2 linked regions of the Homo sapiens genome follow. The protein of the gene in region 1 purifies or fractionates together with the protein of each later gene. This does not show direct contact. Each region holds a gene or a part of one and is shown in the gene's direction. Other genes may lie near its edges.

Region 1 (6,350 bases):
TTGATATAAGAAATGAGGTTGGGCCAGGCGCAGTGGCTCACACCTGTTATCCCAAAACTTTGGGAGGCTGAAGTGGGCGAATCATGAGATCAGGAGTTCAAAACCAGCCTGGCCAATATAGTGAAACCCCACCTCTACAGAAAATACAAAAAATTAGCCGAGCGTGGTGGCGGGTGCCTGTAATCCCAGCTACTCGGGAGGCTGAGGCAGGAGAATCGCTTGAACCTGGGAGGTGGAGGTTGCAGTGAGCAGAGATTGCGCCACTGCACTCCAGCCTGGGTGACAGAGTGAGACTACATCTCAAAAAATAAATAAAAAGACAAATGAGGTTGGACAATAGCTTGATTTTTTAAAAACTCCAAGCCAGTTGCCCAATAATCCATTTTGCCATTGATGTGACTTGAAACTAAACACCCATATGTGCTTTTACTTAATTCTGCTCACTTCTCAGTTTCACTGATGCACTGGTACTATGCCATTGGAGGCAATACAGCATTCTAATGCATTTACAGATATGGAAGAGAAATCCTCCCCTTTTATTTTCATTCAGAAATTGCCTGGCTATTCTCACATGTGGTCTTACCCCAGTCAGACCCAACACCTCACTTTTATAACAAATATTTGGTAATGCACCCTTTGTTATATGAAAGGAGATATTTGTGGATAATGTAACCCCAGTCTTCATGATAAACAAAAAGGCCCAGCTGATTTCCAAAATGCACCCCAGTTTAGAATCAGTCTGGCAAGTATCACATGAAATCCTATTGGTATTTGATTGGGATCACACAGCATTTGCAAATCAATTTAAGCAACATTTCTATTTTTACAATATTGTGGCCTCTAGCCCCAATAACAATTATTTCTCTTCATTTACTTATATCTTTGTGTCTGGGCAGGGTCCTGCCAGGAAACAGACGGCATGTTAAAGTGAGAAACTGATGAGTTCAGCAAAGTGACTATTTATATATTTGGACAGGATTTAAGGAAGTAAGAAAGGATGATGCAACACTTCAGAGGGGAGTCTTTCCGACCTCAGGCTGAAGGAGAAGGAACGATTACTGGAATTCAGGGAGGAGAGCATCACCAAACAAGAGCTTCATTAGAGGACTGCAGCCAACGCAGGGCCAGGCGGAGGGAGCCAGAGGGAGGCAGGCTCTGCTCTCCCTCTTCCTGCCCTTCAGTTTCCAACCACGGCCTCCTATTGGCCAAACCCAACCAGAAGCCAGCGAGCAAGGGGCTACTGATGAAGCACATATAGCTCAGCCTCCAGAGACACAGAACAGGATAAAAGGCTGAGACAGTGGGTCTGGTGGGGCAAAGAGAAAGCTTGCACCTGCCAGGTAAAGCATTATAGTCCCCATCCTCCCCCCACCACCTTAGTTCTTGTGCATTTCCCATCAGTTTTCTTCCAAAGCATTTCAGATCTCACTGATTTGAATGGGACCTCTTCTTCTATTACCAATTTGGATCAGTAATTATTTATGTATGAGAAAACTATTGATTTTTACATATCGTTGCATAGCAGAGTGGTTTAATAAGGAGACATTTGGTTTTTACTGCCTGTGTGGGTATCACTTGCTATGTGACTTGAGGCAAATCCAATATTTCTTCTGTTATAAATTCCAGTATTTGTAAAAAATGGGTAATAAGATCTCTATTTTATATAGTTTTAGTATTTAATGAGATAATACATATAAAGTCATTAAAACAGTGTCTGGCTCATAAAAAACCCTCAATAAATGTCACTTATTACTGTATCTGGTTTTTGAGCTGCTCTATTGCACCATTGAGTTTTCAGCCCAGTATATGTTAACCCTGATCATTATCTGCAGAAGTCCCCGTGCCACACTCTACATCATCCAAATTCTCTCCAGGTGGACTAAGTAGATTAAAGAACTTTAAACATAACTACCATATTTTGGCTCTATCTACAAAATGTCCAATAATCAGTTAAGAAAGGAACAATTCTCTTGGGGCCCACACTTTGAGAAGCAAATGCAGCTGAACTTTTTTAGAGGAAAGTGAGTGAACCAACTGGTAGCTTTGCCACTGCTTAAAAACCAGCATCCTTTCCAGCTGGGTCTAAGACAGAATAAGGTAAATTTAGATATGTCTCTAATATATCTATAGAACAGTGGTTCTCAACCCGGGGTGTTTTTGCCCCTTAGGGGATAATTTGCAATGTCTGGAGACATCTGTGATTGTCATAACTGGAAGGGGGCAGTGCTATTGGCATCTAGTGGGTATAGAGCAAGGGTGCTACCAAATATCCTATGGTGCAACAGAGAATTATCTGGTCAAAAATGTAAATAGTGCTGAGGGTGAGAAACCCTGCTATAAAAACGAAAGAAATTTGGTCTACAGAGTTGTTTGGATTTAGACAAGACGTTGCCCCAATAGTGGTGATAGAAATAAGAGGAACCCCGTGCTTTTGCAAAGCCCATATCTGGGGTGGCTTAAATAATCATGCTCCTCCCCATCCCCCGACCTGATCTTTGTAGTTGGAAACTCCAGGGCTGGCTGCCTGTAGTCTTTGTGACTACACTTCCTGCCTCCCATCACTTCATCTCAGAAGACTCCAGATATAGGATCACTCCATGCCATCAAGAAAGGTATTTTAAACATTGGAACACATATAGATAATTTAAGTAGGTAGATGTATGTGCTGTTATAAGGAAGTGGGGAGGAGAGAAGAGGGAACCGAAATCATATGCACAAAAATTTTTTTTAGAATATAAATAAAAAATGTGGTAGTCTAAAATGTCAATTCTTCAAAGATAAAGTTAGGCTTTCAGTAACGTTAGAAATGGTTTTCTGGAATATGTCTCCAGTCTACCTAACTTTGAGGAAGTAAATACTGTAAATAGATGTTTCAAACGCATTTTAAAGCAATGATCCTAGCATGTCTTTAAGCTACAGTATTGTGCTGTCTTTGAAATGTAAACTTTGATGTCTTCTCTTTCTCTTAGTTGATGCTATTGGGCCCATCTCAAGCTGATCTTGGCACCTCTCATGCTCTGCTCTCTTCAACCAGACCTCTACATTCCATTTTGGAAGAAGACTAAAAATGGTAAGAACAGCTCAGAGAACCTTAAAAAGTGTTATCTGTAATCTTTGTGGAAACAACTGAAACCAGCTGGCAAGAGCAATATTGAAGAATCTGTACTTAGGTTATTTGCTGGGGGAAAGTGCTTCCTGATATTTCACAATTGGCATTAATGAAGGGGGCATGTCACAATTTCAGATTAATCAACGCTTGCTCTGTTCAACTTCCTACAAGAATTAAATATGTGCTGTGGGGAGGAGGAGCAGATGTTTGAATTGGGGACATAGCTTCTATGTATCTCATTTCTTCAGCCTACAATTTTGGCTTTAAAGCCATAACAAATCACTGAATTACTGAAGTTACTTTGTGCTTTTTCCAGCATATGGTGTTGTCTTAATGACTGTGTGGATGAAAGTGTGTGGGCAGGCTCATAGCAATAAAATACGGGAAATCCCCGGGCTTGAGTGCTGTCAAAGAAAACTAAATTTGGACAGTAGATAAAGATACTATCAGGACTATTGCAATCGGCAGAAAGAGACCTCAGTATAGAAAGGGGCTCAATTCCAAATACAGCCAAAGACCAGTAAAGATTTCTGGCCAAGGAGTAGAGTGGGGGTCAGTGGATGGAAAATTACTAAGAGGAAACATCAAGGGTAAAAGGATTCTGGCTAAACCGACCTGACAGGATTCTTGCTGAAGACAGGCCAGGGTGATCAGACCTCACCTGTGGATGGTGGGAGATGAGGAATTTGATCAGATATTGAGGGTGATCACATACCAAGAGGAGTGGATTATCAATAAAATGACTTAGCAGGATTCCTGCTTGAACTGGGCAATGCAAAGATGGACATGAAGCCAAAGGCCGAAGCCTAGGGGTGTAGTAGAGCCTGATTAAGTTGAATTAAGGAGAGTCTTTGTCAGCGCTGGCTCTCCCAGTCACTAGTTGGGGGGGCCTTGTGCCTGTCATCAAAGTCCTCTGAAACTCAATTTCTCTGACTATGAAATAGGCATTAGAATCCCTCCCCTGTTGCCTTCCAGGGCCACTGTGAGGCTCAAATAATAGACTATTTTTCAAGTCCTTTGCAAGTGGTATGATGCAAGTGTGAGTTATTAGGTATGCCAAAACTTAGTCGGAAAAAGACGTCAAGGGCCTTTTTCTGAAATTATTTTGTCACTTAAATCAGACACATTCTAGATCCGAATGTTAGCTCCTAGGCTCATTTTGTGTCAAAGTTCTAATGAAGCATTAACCATGGGGCTATTGTTACAAAGGAAACAACTGCTTACGGTTTCATTTCCTAGAAACCCAGATGTCTATTTTAATGCAAACCTATGCCCACATCTGTCTTTGCCCCTTGATGGGTGGCATAATGGGAATGATAGTAATACAGAGAGCTCACATTTCTTGACCACTCAACTATCATGCTGAGGGCTAGATAGACATGATTCTATTTTGGCCTCAAAGTAGCCCTATAAGGTAGAGATAACGAAACTGGGGCTTTGAGAGGTTAAGGAGCTTGGGTGGCTCTGAAAGCTGTGCTGAAGACTCTTCTGTTCTTCCTAGACCAAGCCCAGCACACACGCAATAAAGATGAGGTTGGATATGATGGCTTCCTACTCAAGTACAAAGGGGAAATAGTATATCTTTTCTAAGAAAAGACGTGAAAATAATTTTCAATATAAGAAATTCAAAAGGCAAAAAAGCACAGGGAAAATATTCAACTGTATTGAGTCATATGGCAGATCCTTTGATCTAGAGATTACACTTTTAGAAACTCTTCTTAAAGAAGTGACCATGAGACTGGATAAAAAAATGTGGCACATATACACCATGGAATACTATGCAGCCATAAAAAGGAATGAGATCATGTCCTTTGCAGGGACATTGATGAAGCTGGAAGCCATTATCCTCAGCAAACTAACACAGGAACAAAAAACCAAACACCGCATGTTCTCACTTATAAGTGGGAGCTGAACAGTGAGAACACATGGACACAGGGAGGGGAACAACACTCACTGAGGCCTGTAGGAGGAGGGTGGGGCAGGAGAGAGCATTAGGGTAAAAAGCTAATGCATGCTGGGCTTAATACCTAGGTGATGGGTTGATCTGTGCAGCAAACCACCATGGCACGTTTAACTATGTAACAAACCTGCACATCCTGCACATGTACCCCAGAACTTAAAAAAACAAGCAATAAAATAATTTTAAAAAAACAAAAGAAGTGATCGTGGACATGGAAAACTATTTACCAAGATGGTCAGTGCAGCCAGGCAAAAAAAAAAAAAAAAAAAAAATCATGTCCCATGTTGGGAAGGGGTGAATTAATTGTAGTAGACTCATTAAATGGAATATTATGTAATCATCAAATCATGTTTTTTAAAATAATACTGAATGACCTAAGAAAGCACTCATGGTATAATGTTAAATGAAAAAAGCAAGCTAGAAATGGATAAGTACCGTGTATTCCTCATGTTTTTACTGCACCTGCTAGGCAAATACTAGATGCTCACTAAATGTTGGATAATCTGTGATGATGGTTTACATAAACACATGTGTTGCATATTCTAATTTCATTCAACATCCCTACTTTATAACCATTTTACAGTTGGCAAATCAGAGGCTCATGAGGTCAAGTGATTTATGAAAGTCAGAGAGCTCTTACATGACAGAACAAGGACTTAAAACCAAATTTTTGTACTGACAAAGCCTTGGCTGTTACTAGAATGCTTCTCACCATGTGAAATAGATGCAGGGATGGGAAATTACTATTAGAAGGGACCATCTCCCAAAATGTCAATAGTGGTTCAGCAAATTTAAAAGTAAAAATATTATTCTGCTCTTAACCTATAGGAAATTTCTTTATGGCTAAAAAAAGGTTATTAAGTAATCAATTTATTAAATTAATACAATCTGATTATTTAAAAATTTGGAACGCTGTACTAAAATTAAAAATCATCATTACAGATTAACCAGCCAGTACCTCTGCACCCCAAGAATAAATAATGTATATCCCCGAAACTCACCGAAGTTTAGGGCTGGGGTTGGCAAACTATGGCCCATGGGCTATATCCCACCTGCTGTACAGCTCATGAGCTAAGGGGTTTTTTTTTAATTGTTGTTTTTAAAAGACTGAAAAATATCAGAGCAAAATTACTATTTTGTGACATATAAAAGTTACATTCAAGTTTCAGTGTTTACAAATGGTTTTATTGTTTGAGTATTTGTTTACTTATTGTTGATAAGTGCTTTTGCACTACGATGGCAAACTATTCAAGGAGTTGGGTAGTGTGACAGAGAACCTGA
Region 2 (5,048 bases), on another chromosome or scaffold:
ACCAATTGTACTTTTATTATATCAGGCTGATTCACTGTTTCTAATGCAATGAACTTGACACAGATTTTAAATTTTTTCTCAATCTGTCCCATTGTGTAGACAAATTAATTCAAAGTTCTTTTTCTTCCTTCTCTTTTTCATCTAAGCCTGTGCTTATGAGTAGAAAAAGAGAAGAGGCTACCTTGAAATGCCTCGGGCCCAAACTCAGAAGGCTCTGCACTCAACTGAGCCTCCCTTCCTACTAAGAATGGAATAGTGTTGCTTATAGGGGTGTTGGTCCAAGTATCAGCTGTGGATGATTAATTCCCAGGGCTGCTATCACCTAAGGTAACTTCAGTAATCTTATGTGTTTGGAAAGGAGGATGAGGATTATTTTTCAAATACATAATTTTGTTTTATTTTGAAACAATCTCACACCTACAGAAAAGTTGCAATTATAATACAAAGAGCTTCCCCCTCGCCTGAACTGTTTGATAGTAAGTTGCCAAACTGATATACCCACGATCCCCAAATGCTTCAGTGTATTTCCTCCCAGCAAGGACATTCTCCTGCATAACCACAATACAACCATAAAAGTCAGGAGATTAACACCAGTTCATTTTGACCATCTGAAATTCAGGTGTCATTCATGTTTTGCCAGTTGTTCTTTGTATGTTCTTCATAGCAAAAAAAAAAAAAAAAAAAAGATTTAAATGCAAGCATTACACTTAAGTGTGGTGTCTCTGTGGTCTCTTTCTGTCTGGAATAGTTCCTAAGTCTTCCTTGCACTTTAGTGCTTTTAAAGATTGCAGGCCAGTTATTTTGTAGAATGTTCCTTGATTTGGGTTTGTCTGATGTTTCCTCATAATTAGATTCAAGTTACTTACCTTTGGCAGGAATATCAGGGATAATACTCTGTTCCAATTGCATCCTGATGTTCACTTTGATCACCTGATTGACTGTTGTCTGCCAGCCTTCTTCACTGTGAAATGATACATTTTTTCTTTTTAATTAGTAAGATTTGGTAGGGAAATATTTTAAAACCATGTACATATCCCATTCTTCATTAATCTTCTGAATTATACTTTATTTGTATCAGTGTGGACTCAAGCCTTCTAATTTTGTTCTATTTGCTCTCGTTGTTTACTTTGCTGTTCATAATGTCCTAGATTTGGCCAGTGGAAGCCTCTTCAAATTGGTTTCTATGTTCTTTTGATGTGTTTGGGCACTTCCTTGCTTTCCGGCACAGCAAGATATTTCAAGATCATCTATACTTTTCCTGCCCCAGTCCTAGGATAAACCATTTTTCAAGAAGCCCTGGTTACTTTTCCTGGAGAATAATATGTGGAAGTTAGAACCTGTGCTCTGGTCATGCTCAGTGCTATCAGGTGGCACTGCTACCAGGTCCTCTCAATGGACAAAGCAAGGGGTGTTAAGTTTGAATACACACATCCCTCCCCACACACACTCATACATATATACACATTTACATCTATATTTATTTCTGAACCTCCAGTTCTAATCCATACAGGTGTTTAAACTGATGCCTTCATTCTAATCCAACACTACATGGTTCATTCTAGTTTTTTTTTTCCTTTCATTTTTGCTACTCCCTTCTCAGCCAGTGAGAAAACTGGCTTACTATTCAATTGCAGTAGGTAACCAGTCATGTATCATTACGCTGTCTCCTTCACACATGGGCTCTGCGCTCCAGGCCAGCCCATGTAGAAGCCTATCTTCCTTGGTCCTACCTAGTGGCTTTAGTCTAAATTGTTCAAGAGAAAGGAGTAGATGAAATTATGTTCTTAACATATGTTTGTATTGCTTTTGGATTCTCAGTATGTCATCATTACAAATCCTCAGAGGGTGTTTCTGTGTGACTGGGGGAGGCAGACTAATATAAAGTGCTCAATAAATCTATTTGATCATGAATCTTGTCTTGCATGGATTGGATTTTCATTTTAAGAAATCACGACTTTGTGAATATTAAGAGCATGACTTCTCCTTTGACCTTTACTCCATCATTTTGGTCTCAGATGGCTGGAGATAGCATATTCTTTTGTGAGCTGAGGAAGTCTTGACTGCTTGTGGCCTCCTGATCCTCAAAGAATAAACCATACTGATTTGCAATACTTGAGTTTCGCAATATTTGAGTTTTTCTTCAAGAAACAGATTTTCTTGGAAGCACACAAAGTTTGATTTAAGGGACTTAATTCAGTGTGTCTATAGACCCTGGATTTCAGACAATTAATGCTGAGATGGGGAGGGAGAAGCAGGCACTGGGGAAAAAAGATCCAAAGAAGATAAGCCCAGGAGAGTAAGGAGGCTGATGGAATGTAAGACAAATTTACGAATGGAAGCCAGAGGTGGTCACTATACTGCTTTGAAAACATCTTTACTTTCTCCAATAACCTTGAGCTGTTTCTTCCTGATTCTGACCTTGAGGATGGTGGTCAGGGGCAAAGTGCCCAAAGATCTGAAAATATTCCACCAATTAGTGGTTTGTTTTTCCTGGAATAAATATGATAGTCTTAGATTTCACCAATTCCAGTAAAAAATTTCTATTTTCCCCCTTAACATTTTCTTTTATTTTACCCATCTTTAAATAAAAAAAAAAAACTTCTCTTGATCTTACCAGCTGAAATCTCATTCTCCTCTTCTATTTAAAGCAAATCTCATGCTAACTACAATTTTTGTACTCCCATGCTCTCTTGAACACCCTCCAATCACTTTTGTCACCATTCTATTGAAAATACTCTGGTCAAAAGCAAGAAGCTCTACATTACTAATCAACCAATCTTTGATCAGTCCTCATCTTATTGTAGATTAATTCCCCAATCTTGATGCACTGTCTTCACTTGGCTTTCAACATGCTAGTCTTCTGGTTTTCCTTCTCCCACCTTATTTCCTCTCCTCAAGCCTTTTTGCTCTTTCTGCTCTTCTCTGGACTGCTAATAGTGGACTCTCCCAGGGCTCAGGCTCTCATCTCTTTATGTTCCTACCTATACCCTAATTTTGATATATACTGAATCTGACCATACCTCTACTGTTATTCTGGCCCAAACTTTTATTATGTCTCGGCTGGATGTTTATGATAGCCTCCTAACAGTTGTCCCCACTTCGGACCTTGCTCCCTTTAGTCTGTTCTCCACATAGAAACCCCAGGGGTTCTCTTGAAAATACGTCATGCCACTTCTTGGCTCAGGATCTGCTCCCCAGCCTTTTCCCTACCTTATCTCTGTCACCAGCTCACTCATTGTGGACCTGGCCTCAGCACGCTGACCCCATTGGCACTTGAATCTGTCATTCCCTCTGCCTAGAAAGACTTTTTCCTAAGAAGCTGCATGACTTACTCCCAAATTGAACTGTTTCTCTGCTCAACATTCTCAGTGCCCCCTCACTGCTTTATATTAATATATCCAAGGCACTTATGACTATCTGGCAGAGTGTTTAACGTTAAAGTTTGTTCCTTCATCTCCCCCACCTTCCCTCATGCACAATAAGGCTCCGTAAGGCCAGGGGTTTTGTATGGTTGTTGCTGTGTCTCTAACTCCTCAGAACACTTTACATTCTTTTCAACATACTATGTGGGACCTAAACGAATACTTGTCCCATATGAAAAGAGCTGTGTTCTGATGTCGGAGAAGGCGATTCCCAAGCTCCATTTTCTAACTGCTAAGAGCAGGGCCTGACTAATTTTTATTTTTTTTTGAATCAGTGAATGAGGGAAATGAATAACTGATAATATACATTCATTGTAGAAGGATACCTAAATAATAGATATGTATTTTCTTTCCTTTTTTCCTTATAATTAAATTTCTTAGACAATAAAATGATAGATTTATGTAATGGTTTCATGGTTTTTCATTTATATGTTACGTTATACCTCTTTTCTGTTAAGAATGATTTTTGACATCGAATTACACTGCAGTGTTTTGAAAAGTTTTCCAGTAGGGTTGAAGTGGAGGGCACACCACCACCTCCAGAGAGTGGATGCCCCAAACTCCTTTCGCCCATGAGCCACTCCCCCACTGCCCTCTCATCAAACACTGTCTTCAGTGTCTCTCTTGTGCCTCAATTTCAATTTTGGGGAATTTCACCCAATGTGGGCATTTGAGATTTATTTCTAAAGCACCCACAGTTTCTCAGAAGCAGTGCCTTTTTGAGTCGGGAGGCCATCTGAAGAGGAATCAGATCCTTAGCAGGGTGCCTAAGTTACCCTCAGTCCCCCCAAAGAAAGGAGAAACTCTTGGGATGATGGCTCCCCTAAAGAAGGCAACTTCTCCTGGAGGAAAAGGATATACATGCCTTGGATGACTCCTGCCCGCTCACAGAAGGCTGCTTTTGTTGTGGCTTAAAGTTAGATCTTCTGGTAGAGTTCTAGAATGTGGGCCCTGCCGATGAGTGACAGCCAAAAGCTCACCTTGGAAGAGGCACCAGAGTCACAGCCCCAGCTCTCTCAGGGAAGACGCTGCTCCAGAGCATCTCAGAAGCCACCAGGGAAGACAGTGGCAGATGGGAAGCCGGTGGTGCAGGGCCAAGGGCACAGCTCTGCCTGACGCAGCATTGTCAGCAATAGGTAACATATAACTTATGAGGAGTATCTGAGTACCAGCAGGCACTCTTGGGAGTGAAGGATGGGGGAAGAGAATCTGCCCCAGACTTCATATCCATTGGAAATGCCACATCAGGTGCTGTATCTTGGCATGGATTGTGTTTCCTGTAGGTGTGGGAGTTCTTCTTCTCACAGTCAAGCCCTCCACCTGTCCCTTGTCACACACCCTGTCCTTTTGAATAGAAATTCTCATCCTAGCCCAGCTTCAGGCACGGCCTGGCTTACCCTTGGACCCCAGAGATCTCACCCTTCTGAGGTCTCAACTCTCCTTAAGGAGTTAGGAAATGAAGCTTGGGAATCCACTTCTCGGACATCAGAACACAGTTCCTTTTGCACAGGACAAGTATTTATTTAGGTTCCACTTAGTATATTGAAAAGAATTTGAAGTGTTTTGGTGGTTTGTAGTCCTCTTTCATCATGCTGAATCAAGCCTCAAAAAGGTCAATTTCTGCAG

The links.
Region 2: the proteins of TLR7 (region 1) and EPDR1 purify together in Homo sapiens (affinity purification with mass spectrometry; one large-scale study listed by BioGRID and IntAct). This does not show direct contact.

What each region holds. Positions count from the first base shown.
Region 1 is NC_000023.11:12,864,512-12,870,861, forward strand, and holds the start of TLR7 (toll-like receptor 7 precursor), read left to right. Parts: upstream 1-2,560; 5' UTR 2,561-2,612; intron 2,613-2,969; 5' UTR 2,970-3,067; coding exon 3,068-3,070; intron 3,071-6,350.
Region 2 is NC_000007.14:37,925,814-37,930,861, forward strand, and holds part of EPDR1 (mammalian ependymin-related protein 1 isoform 1 precursor), read left to right. Parts: intron 1-5,048. UniProt on the Homo sapiens protein: Binds anionic lipids and gangliosides at acidic pH.